Regions from separate parts of the Homo sapiens genome. Here region 2 is reported to be linked to region 1. Evidence: microRNA targets listed by miRTarBase, many of them from high-throughput screens and not tested one by one. Region 1 holds a microRNA gene; the other region holds the end of a gene's coding sequence.

Evidence for each region. The annotated mature microRNA hsa-miR-7154-3p reads AGGAGGACAAGUUGUGGGAU and lies in region 1 at 3,067-3,086, shown strand. An mRNA with a match to its seed (bases 2 to 7 or 8) in the 3' UTR can be bound and repressed. Matches are read on the target gene's strand: a 7mer-m8 pairs with bases 2 to 8, a 7mer-A1 pairs with bases 2 to 7 and ends in A, and an 8mer does both.
Region 2: miRTarBase lists CALR as a target of hsa-miR-7154-3p. Seed matches in the 3' UTR shown: 7mer-A1 at 3,357-3,363.

What each region holds. Positions count from the first base shown.
Region 1 is chr11:45,690,402-45,694,789 of GRCh38, reverse strand. MIR7154 (microRNA 7154) reads left to right here and starts at 3,014; the gene lies at 3,014-3,086.
Region 2 is chr19:12,943,034-12,947,421 of GRCh38, reverse strand. CALR (calreticulin) reads right to left here. Exons shown (of 9, transcript NM_004343.4): 8 at 3,793-3,885; 9 at 2,933-3,709. The coding sequence ends at 3,509. RAD23A (RAD23 nucleotide excision repair protein A) reads right to left here and starts at 1,560. Exons shown (of 9, transcript NM_005053.4): 1 at 1,402-1,560. The coding sequence starts at 1,473. RefSeq lists enhancers at 1-143, 1,459-1,678, 1,090-1,782 and silencers at 773-1,067, 1,039-1,098, 1,119-1,308, 1,319-1,398.

The sequences.
Region 1 (4,388 bases):
ACACCACTGACACTTGACTTGAGAGGTCTGTGAGGGCCCTGTGGGTCTGAAGCCCCAGGGGATGGGAGGAAAGTCTGTCTGGACAGCCAGCAGAGGTTTAGTTAGGTGGGATATAAAGTGTGTGACTGAAAACGCTTCTCACATTGGTTTTAGAAAACACCCTAGCAGGCTGGTGGGCAGTGGAAAGAGTAGGAGGAAAAGAATCCCTTTTTTTCTTTGCCTTGGGGAAGAAGAAGCTGTTTAAATTCAGTGGAAGAAGAGCTATGAGGCCTTAGGTGGAGGGAGAGGCTGACTGAAGATGAGAGTCAGTTCCAGCCCTGTTGGGTTGATGGGACGGGGAAGGAAGGCAGCAATAAGAGAACTGCTAGCTGCTGGTGATGGGCAGGAAGGTGGTGCCTTTGCTGTCATAACTTGGTTAGAGAAAGGCAAGTATCAGGGACTTGCAATGATGGTTAGCAGATGCAGAATCTCAGTCCTGTCCCCTGCCTCAATCCCCTGCCATCTATACCCTGGGCTGCTTATGGGACATTGTCTATCCCCTTCCTGCAGAAGGGCCTAGCTTTAGAGTCCACTGGAGCTCTGGGCCAGACCTGGGGAGGCTCTTGGAGTCAGCACACCCCAGAGATTCTTATTTCATAGGTGTGGGGTGGAGCTGAGGAACCTGAATCTTTAACAAGCTCACTAGGTATTTCAGCTGCCGGTCATCCATGCAGCACATTTGAGAAGCCTGATTCTGGGATCTGTGGAGTCAACAGACTTTTTTGAGGAGGGAGGCAGGCAGCTGCTTGGGAGGGCTGGCTATTTATTCCACAGGTCGTTGACGACCTAGCACTTGCTGAGTGGGCCCTGCTGAGTGAGCCCTGCTCACGCCCAGTGCAGGGCTCTATAGGTGCTTCAGAGGAGCTCTGCCCGCAAGGAGCTTACACATAAGCTGGGAGATGGCCTAGCAACGGATCCCTTGGATGTAACTCGGAGTGAAATGAGTGCTGTCAGACACAAACAGGCAAAAACTGTGGCCTTTGAGTAGAGAACAGGCTGGAGCGGATGGTGGTGCTGGCTTGGGGAAGGCCTGGCCAGCCATGCTGAGGAGTTTGGACTTTCTTTTCTAGGAGCCTCAGATAAGCAAACCTTGGGCCCATGAGGTCAAAGACTTGCCCCAAATCACAAAGCTAGTTAGCAGTAAGAGCATACTCCAAACCTGCTCAAGAGAAGTCACTCCAGGCGTGTGGCGTGATCTCAAGTGCCTGGGGACCTTGGACTTGTGTGAAGATGGATCAGGTGTGAGGGGTGATTTGGGTTTTATATTGTAAAGCATGGACAGTACTGGATGAAGGAAGACTCCTTTAAGAAATGATTGTCAATACCCATGCACTGGGGTGAACAGACAATAGCCAAAACAGGAGATGGGCGGGTTCAGGAGGCATTAGACTTCTCTGCATCTTCTTGGTACTTGGTATAGGATGACTGCCCACCAGACCTTTGCCGAATGACTTTATTCACAGACTCTGTGAGATCGTGGTCCCTCTAGTTTATTGGTGGTGAAGAGAACAGGCAACCTGGGGCGGGCGAGGCCCAGTGATTGCCTGTGCCTCTTAGGAAGAGAGCTGTTCAGGTCTGTCTCTGACCTTTCCACCAACCCCCAATTCATCCTCAGCAGCTTACTGGGAACTCTAGAAAATTCTCAAGTCGACCTAGGGGAAATCCACAGTCTTTGAATGGAATATACGTGAGGGAGGAAGGGTGAGAGGCAGTGGTGAGTAGCCTGGGTTGATGACTTCCTCCTTCCTCTGTGAAGTCTAGACAGAGGTACAGGCGCATGGCAGGGGGCGACATAGTTTTGCTTTCTGCTTCTGCCAGTCTTCCAGTCATGCCTCCATCAGTCAATCAGTACCTTATGAGGACAGCAAGGGACAAAAGGTAACAAAGTCCCTGGTTTTAGATCCCTGGAGGCAGCCAGACTCGGCAGGGACAGTTGTGGCAATCCCGGCGGGAGCCTGAGTGTGGGGTACACCCCCACAGCAACCAGAGAAATAAGCTCTTCCTCTAATCTGGGTTGGATGCCAAGAAAGAACCCTCACAGTCAGATGATTTGGGTTTGAAGTCTGGTCTTGGCTGCTAACTGGCAGTATAACCTTGGCAAGTCTCGACCTCTGTGCAGCTTAGTTTCTTCGACGGAAAACATTTGAACACATTATAGCGGTCCTAAGGGGGAAGCCTGGGCTCATTTTGTTCTTCCTGAAGAGGATAAGGCCCCACGTGTCATTCTGGAGATGGGTTTTGGGAACTTGGTTGTGAGGTGCTCTGGCTACTGGCTTGGGTAGGGGTAGAAAGGGTGAGGTGAAGTTTCCTCTAGGAATCTTAACTTCTTCTTTTTAAAAAGTTTTATTTATGATTGACATATAATAATTGTACATACTTATAGGGTACAGTGTGATGTTTCAATGCATGTATACATAGTATAATGATCAAATTGGGTAATTAGCATATCCATCACTGTAAATATTTATAATTTATTTGTGATGAGAATATTCAAAATCCTCTCTTCTAGTTATCGTGAAATATACAATGCATTATTGTTAGCTATAGTCACCATACTGTGTAATAGAACACCAGAACTTATTTTTCCTAACTGTAACTTTATACTTTGTTGATCAATCTCTCTTCGTATACCTCTCTCCCACTTCCCCTAAGGGTTACTCTGGTAACCATCATTCTACTCCCCATTTCTATGAAGTCAAGTTTTTTAGATTCCACATAGGAATGAGATCATGTGGTATTTGTCTTTCTGTGCCTTGCTTATATCACTTAGCATAATGACCTCCAGGATCATCTATGTTACCATAAATGGCAGGATTTCATCCTGTTGTATGGCCAAGTGTAAGGAATCTCACCTCCTGATCAGGGGTCTGAAGAAGAAAAAGAAAAGGAAAAATGTACTTGCAGATTTTAGTTCTGAAATACCAACCTTGAGCAAGAACCCACCAACTTCGGCCTGATACCTACCCTCTCTGCCTTCATGAACTGGGTCTAGCTTGGAGCCTTGGTAGGGAAGCAAGCTGAGGAGATAGGAGGACAAGTTGTGGGATGGGGCTGGGTCACAGGTGGAGTGTCTGCAACACCCTCATTAGGATAGAGAAGAATTTTTTCTTACCTGGAACATGGGTTAGGACAATAGAGAGAGAGAGAGAGAGAGAGAGAGAGAGAGAGAGGGATCAAAAAGAGAATTGCGAATATTTGGAGGCTGGTATCTGTGCACCCAACAAGGTGAGGAGAGGCCACATCCTCAAGGGCACGTCTTTGTCCTGAGAAATTAGGTTCTGAAGGCAGTGGAGCTCCTGAGGCTCTTTCAATTAGGTGGCAGGGTGGGGTAGGGTTGGTCAAGGTTCGCAGGGTTTAGGTGTCTCAGAGGACCCTGCAGCCATCTAGGCAAGATTTGGTTTGCCTAAAGAGGTTAGGGTTTAGAGGGTTTGAACAGCTGGCAGCTATAGGAAAGGGAGGGGGTAATGGACCTGAATGGCAAAAGTCAATCTGATTTTTAAAAATTGGGCTGTCTTCCTCTATTGAGGTGTTCATCTGCCTCTCTTAATCCAAGTCATAGAAGCACAGAGCCAGAAGAGGACCTAGAGATCATGTGGCCCAAACCCCACTCTGTTACACATTTAGGGAAAACTGAGGCCCAGTGGAGGGACCTGCCTCAGCCTCATGAGGCATAGGATGAATCTAGAGGTTAAATCTATCTGCCTGTGGCCCTGTATCTGAGGGGTACCTCCTTTCCAGTTCCTGAAAAAGAGCAAGGGTCCCATAGGTGGGAGTGAGTCCAAGTTAGGCCTGGGCATGGGAAGTGGGGAGTTTGATGCTGACCTAAGTCACTGACCTTGCAATGCTATGAAGGTGTTCCCTTGATGCTTCTGCTAAGAATGAGATCCAGACTCCATTTTAAAAGGTCACTTTTCTAGAAAGCCCCCATAGCACTTTAGCTCTGTATAAGGAATAGCAATGAAAAATATGAGTTTGAACTTGTAAAATGACCACCTAGAAATGCAAACTGAGATCTGTTAGAAACTTCCTGAAAAGCAATCTAGGAATTGAAACATGATGGCTGTCTAACTACCCCAAGCTAGAAAAGCCAAGAATTTCAAAGGGATACCTTAGCACCTGTCATGGCAGACTTAGCTTTGGAAAATAAATTCTGAAAGCTAGGTGACCAATGGCAATTGAAGGTACCTGAAATAGTGCTTGGGATGCAAAAACAAATCCAGGCTAGTGTGTGGTTTGTGATGTTAGAAATACTTGTTTTTCGGTGTTATAAAGAAATAGTACTTGAAAATACATTTAATTTTTTAGTAAGGACATTTTTATTTTTTGTAGAAATGGTATATTTGTCAGTA
Region 2 (4,388 bases), not on the chromosome of region 1:
GGCAGGATCTCGCTGCCGCCCATGCTGGATTGATGTGGCACGATCATCGCTGACTGCAGCCTCAAACTCCTGGGCTCAACTGGTACTCTTGTCCAGCCTTGGGAGTAGCTAGGACTAAAGGTACACACCACCACTCCAGACTAATTAAAAATAATTTTTTTTTGTAGATAAGAGTCTCCCTATGTTAGACTGGCTGGTCTCAAACTCCTGGCCTCAAGCAATCCTCCTGCCTCTGCCTCCCAAATCATCAGGATTAGAGGCATGAGCCACCGTGCCTGGCCAATAGTGCTACTGTAAATGTATATGTGTCATACCTTTTAAGTTTCCTATGAAATACGTTTAATTGGTCTCATTTTATTTATTGATTTTTGTTTCTTTTTTTTGTAGAGAACGGGGTCTCACTGTGTTGCCAGGATGATCTCGAATTCCTAGGCTCAAGGGCTCCTCTTCCCTCTGCCTCCCTAAGTGCTGGGATTACAGGCGGAAGCCAGCAGGCGACCGGTTCATTTGATATTTGAGAAAACGGAGGCACAGACAGGTAGGCAGGTTAACTTGCCCAAAGCCAAACACTTGAGCGGATCAAAAAATGTGTGTTTCCTTTTCTACAAAAAGTGGACTTCAATGTCTCCCTCACTATGCAAAAAGCGCCAAGTACCCAATAGACATTCAGTATGTTTGAATTAGGTCCTAATTCTACTTTTGACTAAAAAGGCAGCATAATATTTATATCGTGGACGCTCACACGAGGCAGAACCGAATTTGAATCCCAGCTCTGCCATTACTTGTGTGTGACTGTGGCAAAGTTCCTCAATCCCTAGGTTTCCACATCTGTAAAATGATCAGAGGTCCCCAATGACAAGCCCGTTTTGCAGAGCGGTAAAACAACACTACAACACTCGGTGACTGATAAAAAGTAAACGGCCAACAAACACGGACCACCAAAATTATAAAGACTGAGACCCGTTTATTATCATTAACATCGTTGTTGTCGTCACTACTCAGTATCTCCTGGTCATTACTCCTAGATTCGACCACCAGTGTCCCAAGGAGACGCCTGCAAAGCTGGGAACGTGGAGCCCAGTCTTGGAGAGCTTGGCCTGCCCAGGAATCCGAGCTTGTGACTCCCGCGCCCCGCGAGAGCGCTGACATTGGAGCCGGGGCCTGGCCAGCGCCCCGGGGGTGGGGCCTCGCCCGGAGACCGGCGCAGGAGCGCCGCCCGATCGGCTGGGGGCTGGGCCAAAGACCATCGGGGGGTCCAGGAAAGTCGGGCAGGTCGGGGGTCTGGGCAGGGCCGACCCGCGCCGTCCTCCCTGCCCCTCCCGTTGGGATTCTAGCCTCCCCGCCCCCACCCCACCCCCGAAACCCGTCGCTCCCGCCCCCGGGCTCCGGCCCGGCCCGCACCGTCTCGTCAGGCTCCATGCGGATCTTGAAGGTCTGCTGCTGCAGCGTTTTGAGCGTGATGGTGACGGCCATGGCGGGGCCCGAGCGACGCGGCGGCCCCGGGATCCTCACACAACATGCAACTCACGCCGCCGCCATCTTAGCGCCCAGGCGCGCCGCGCCGCGCGCCGACCACTTCCGGGGCAGGCAATGCGCGCGCTGACCACCGGCGCACGTGACCTGCGCACTCCCTCCTTGGCCTTTGTGGGCATGCGCACGAGCGCGTTCTCGAGCGAGGCACGCGCAGACTAAACTCCGCGCTGTGGGCGGGGCTTCTTGCTCGGCCCGCACACGTGGTCTCCTGAGTGACGCCATGCCCGTTATCGGTGACGTCACGGGGCTGCAAAGTGACTCTGGTGTCCCCACTCTCACGCTCAAATGAATTTTTAACAAAGTTTTTATGTACCTGTACTGGTTACAGACATTTGTATTTCTTCTGTAAAAACCTCATTTTGCCTCTTCCAAATGAGAATTTTTTCTTTCAAACAGTCTCTGTCACCCAGGCTGGAGTGCAGTGGCGCGATCTCGGCTCACTGCAGCTTCCGCCTTCCGGGTTCATGCAATTCTCCTGCCTCAGCCTCCCGAGTAACTGGGATTACAGGCACCCCCCACCACGCCCGGATAATTTTTTGTATTGGGTTTCACCGTGTTGGCCAGGCTGGTCTCAAAACTCCTGACCTCAGGTGATCCACCCGCCTCGGCCTCCCAAAGTGCTGGGATTACAGGCGTGAACCACCGTACCCGGCCCCCAAATGAGTTTTATTCTGGTCTGGGTATCCTGGCAGGAACCCTTGTAGAGCAGTCAAAGTGAAAGTTACTCAAAACTAGAAATACCTGAAAGGCCACCAAGCACAGAAAAAAAACCTTAAGTTGGAAGCGGGGGCAAGGTGCCATTTTGTAGCCTCATTCATTCTTTAGGGATCTGGAGTTTTGGAATGAACCTACAATTTTCATTCTTGGGTCTCCGGGCAGGAGTACTTTGTTGTACTATACCTAATCTGACCCCAGAAGTATTTAAAGATGTTAACTTTCAAAGCCTCACTACATTAAATACAGAATTCTCCCTTGGATCTACCAGTCCTGGAGGCATCCCAGAGGGGTTGGGCTGAGCCACAGGACCCCAAAGGAATAGAAGCATGAAAAAGGCCAGTTTAAGGGGCAGGGTGAACCAGATTGAGCCACTGTACGCCAGCCTGGACAACAGAGCGAGAGTCTATCTTAAAAATAAATAAATAAGCAGAACCAAAACTTACCAGTTAGGTTCAAGGATTCAGTAAGTTAGTATGTGGAGTATTTACAGCAGCAACAGCCATTCCCCCGTTGGTTTTGAGGGTTATGGGGTAAATAAGGGTCCCTGGAATCTTGTGGAACACTCAGCAACCTCTCTAGCAATAGCTGAAAAAGGAGATATACTGGAAACCCCCCCCCCCCCCAAAAAGACCACTGCTGGGTTTCCTTAAGTCTGTCTTTCCCCAGAAGGAGACACAGGAGGGAGACACAAAATTTAATTTAATAGAAATTTTGTTTGTAGTTCTTACATTCTCAGTGTGAGCCAATCTGGGACCCACTGCCCCACCCAGAAGTGGCCCAGTCCTGGGGGCAGGGGAGAAAGGGAGGGGTGAAATGAGAAGAGCCCCGTTCTTCCTCAGTGCTGGGGGGTTGGAGACACCACCCCCTTCTGCTGCCCTCCTCTGGGCTCCAGGAAGGAGAGCAGATGAAATCTCAGGCCTGTGGCTTCTCCACACCACTGCCCCCCAGGTTGGAGGGGAGCTAAGAGATGAGAGAAGGGGACAGAGGCAAGAAAAGATGTTGATCAAGAAAGATGAGAACCAGGGGTGAGGGCTGAAGGAGAATCAAAGATAAAATACCAGTTTAAAAAAAAAAAAAAAAAAGGGCGGGGAGGGGGTGGGGGAGAGTGGAGGAGGGGAACAAAACCAAAATCCACCCCAAATCCGAACCAGCCTGGAAAAAAATGAAAGTTCTCGAGTCTCACAGAGACATTATTTGGCGCGGCCAGCTCTGCGGCAGGAGCGCTCAGGCCTCAGTCCAGCCCTGGAGGCAGGCCTCTCTACAGCTCGTCCTTGGCCTGGCCGGGGACATCTTCCTCCTCATCTTCCTCCTTGTCCTCCTCATCCTCCTCATCCTCATCTTTGTCCTCATCATCCTCCTTGTCCTCTGCCTCCTCCTCCTCTTTGCGTTTCTTGTCTTCTTCCTCCTCCTTAAGCCTCTGCTCCTCGTCCTGTTTGTCCTTCATTTGTTTCTCTGCTGCCTGCAGGCAGAGCACACACCTCAGGGCCTTGCCCCCTGCCAGCCCTGCCCGCCCCCGACATCAGGACCAGGACCAGGCCTCACCTTTGTTACGCCCCACGTCTCGTTGCCAAACTCCTCAGCGTATGCCTCATCGTTGGTGATGAGGAAGTTGTCAAAGATGGTGCCAGACTTGACCTGGAGGATGAATGGGAAGGATGGTCAGAGGTGATACCCGATAGCCCTTGCTTTGGACAGGGTTTCCACCTGTGTTCCTATAACCACTATATTCTGCTGCCTGCATCTGCAGAGAAGACAAGGAACACCGCTGACACTGCAGTTAAAAAGATGGAGAGGCCAGGTGAGGTGGATCACGCCTGTAATCCTCGCCCAGAGGCCAAGGTGGGCGGATCACGAGGTCAGGAGATCGAGACCACCCTGGCTAACACGGTGAAACCCCGTCTCTACTAAAAATACAAAAAATCAGCCAGGCGTGGTGGCAAGTGCCTGTAGTCCCAGCTATTTGGGAGGCTGAGACAGGAGAATGATGTGAACCCAGGAGGCGGAGCTTGCAGTGAGCCAAGATCGTGCCACTGCACTCCAGCCTGGGTGACAGAGTGAGACTCCATCTCCAAAAAAAAAAAAAAAAAAAAAAAAGATGGAAAGATGGAGAGACAGCCAGGGACGGGACGGGCTCATGC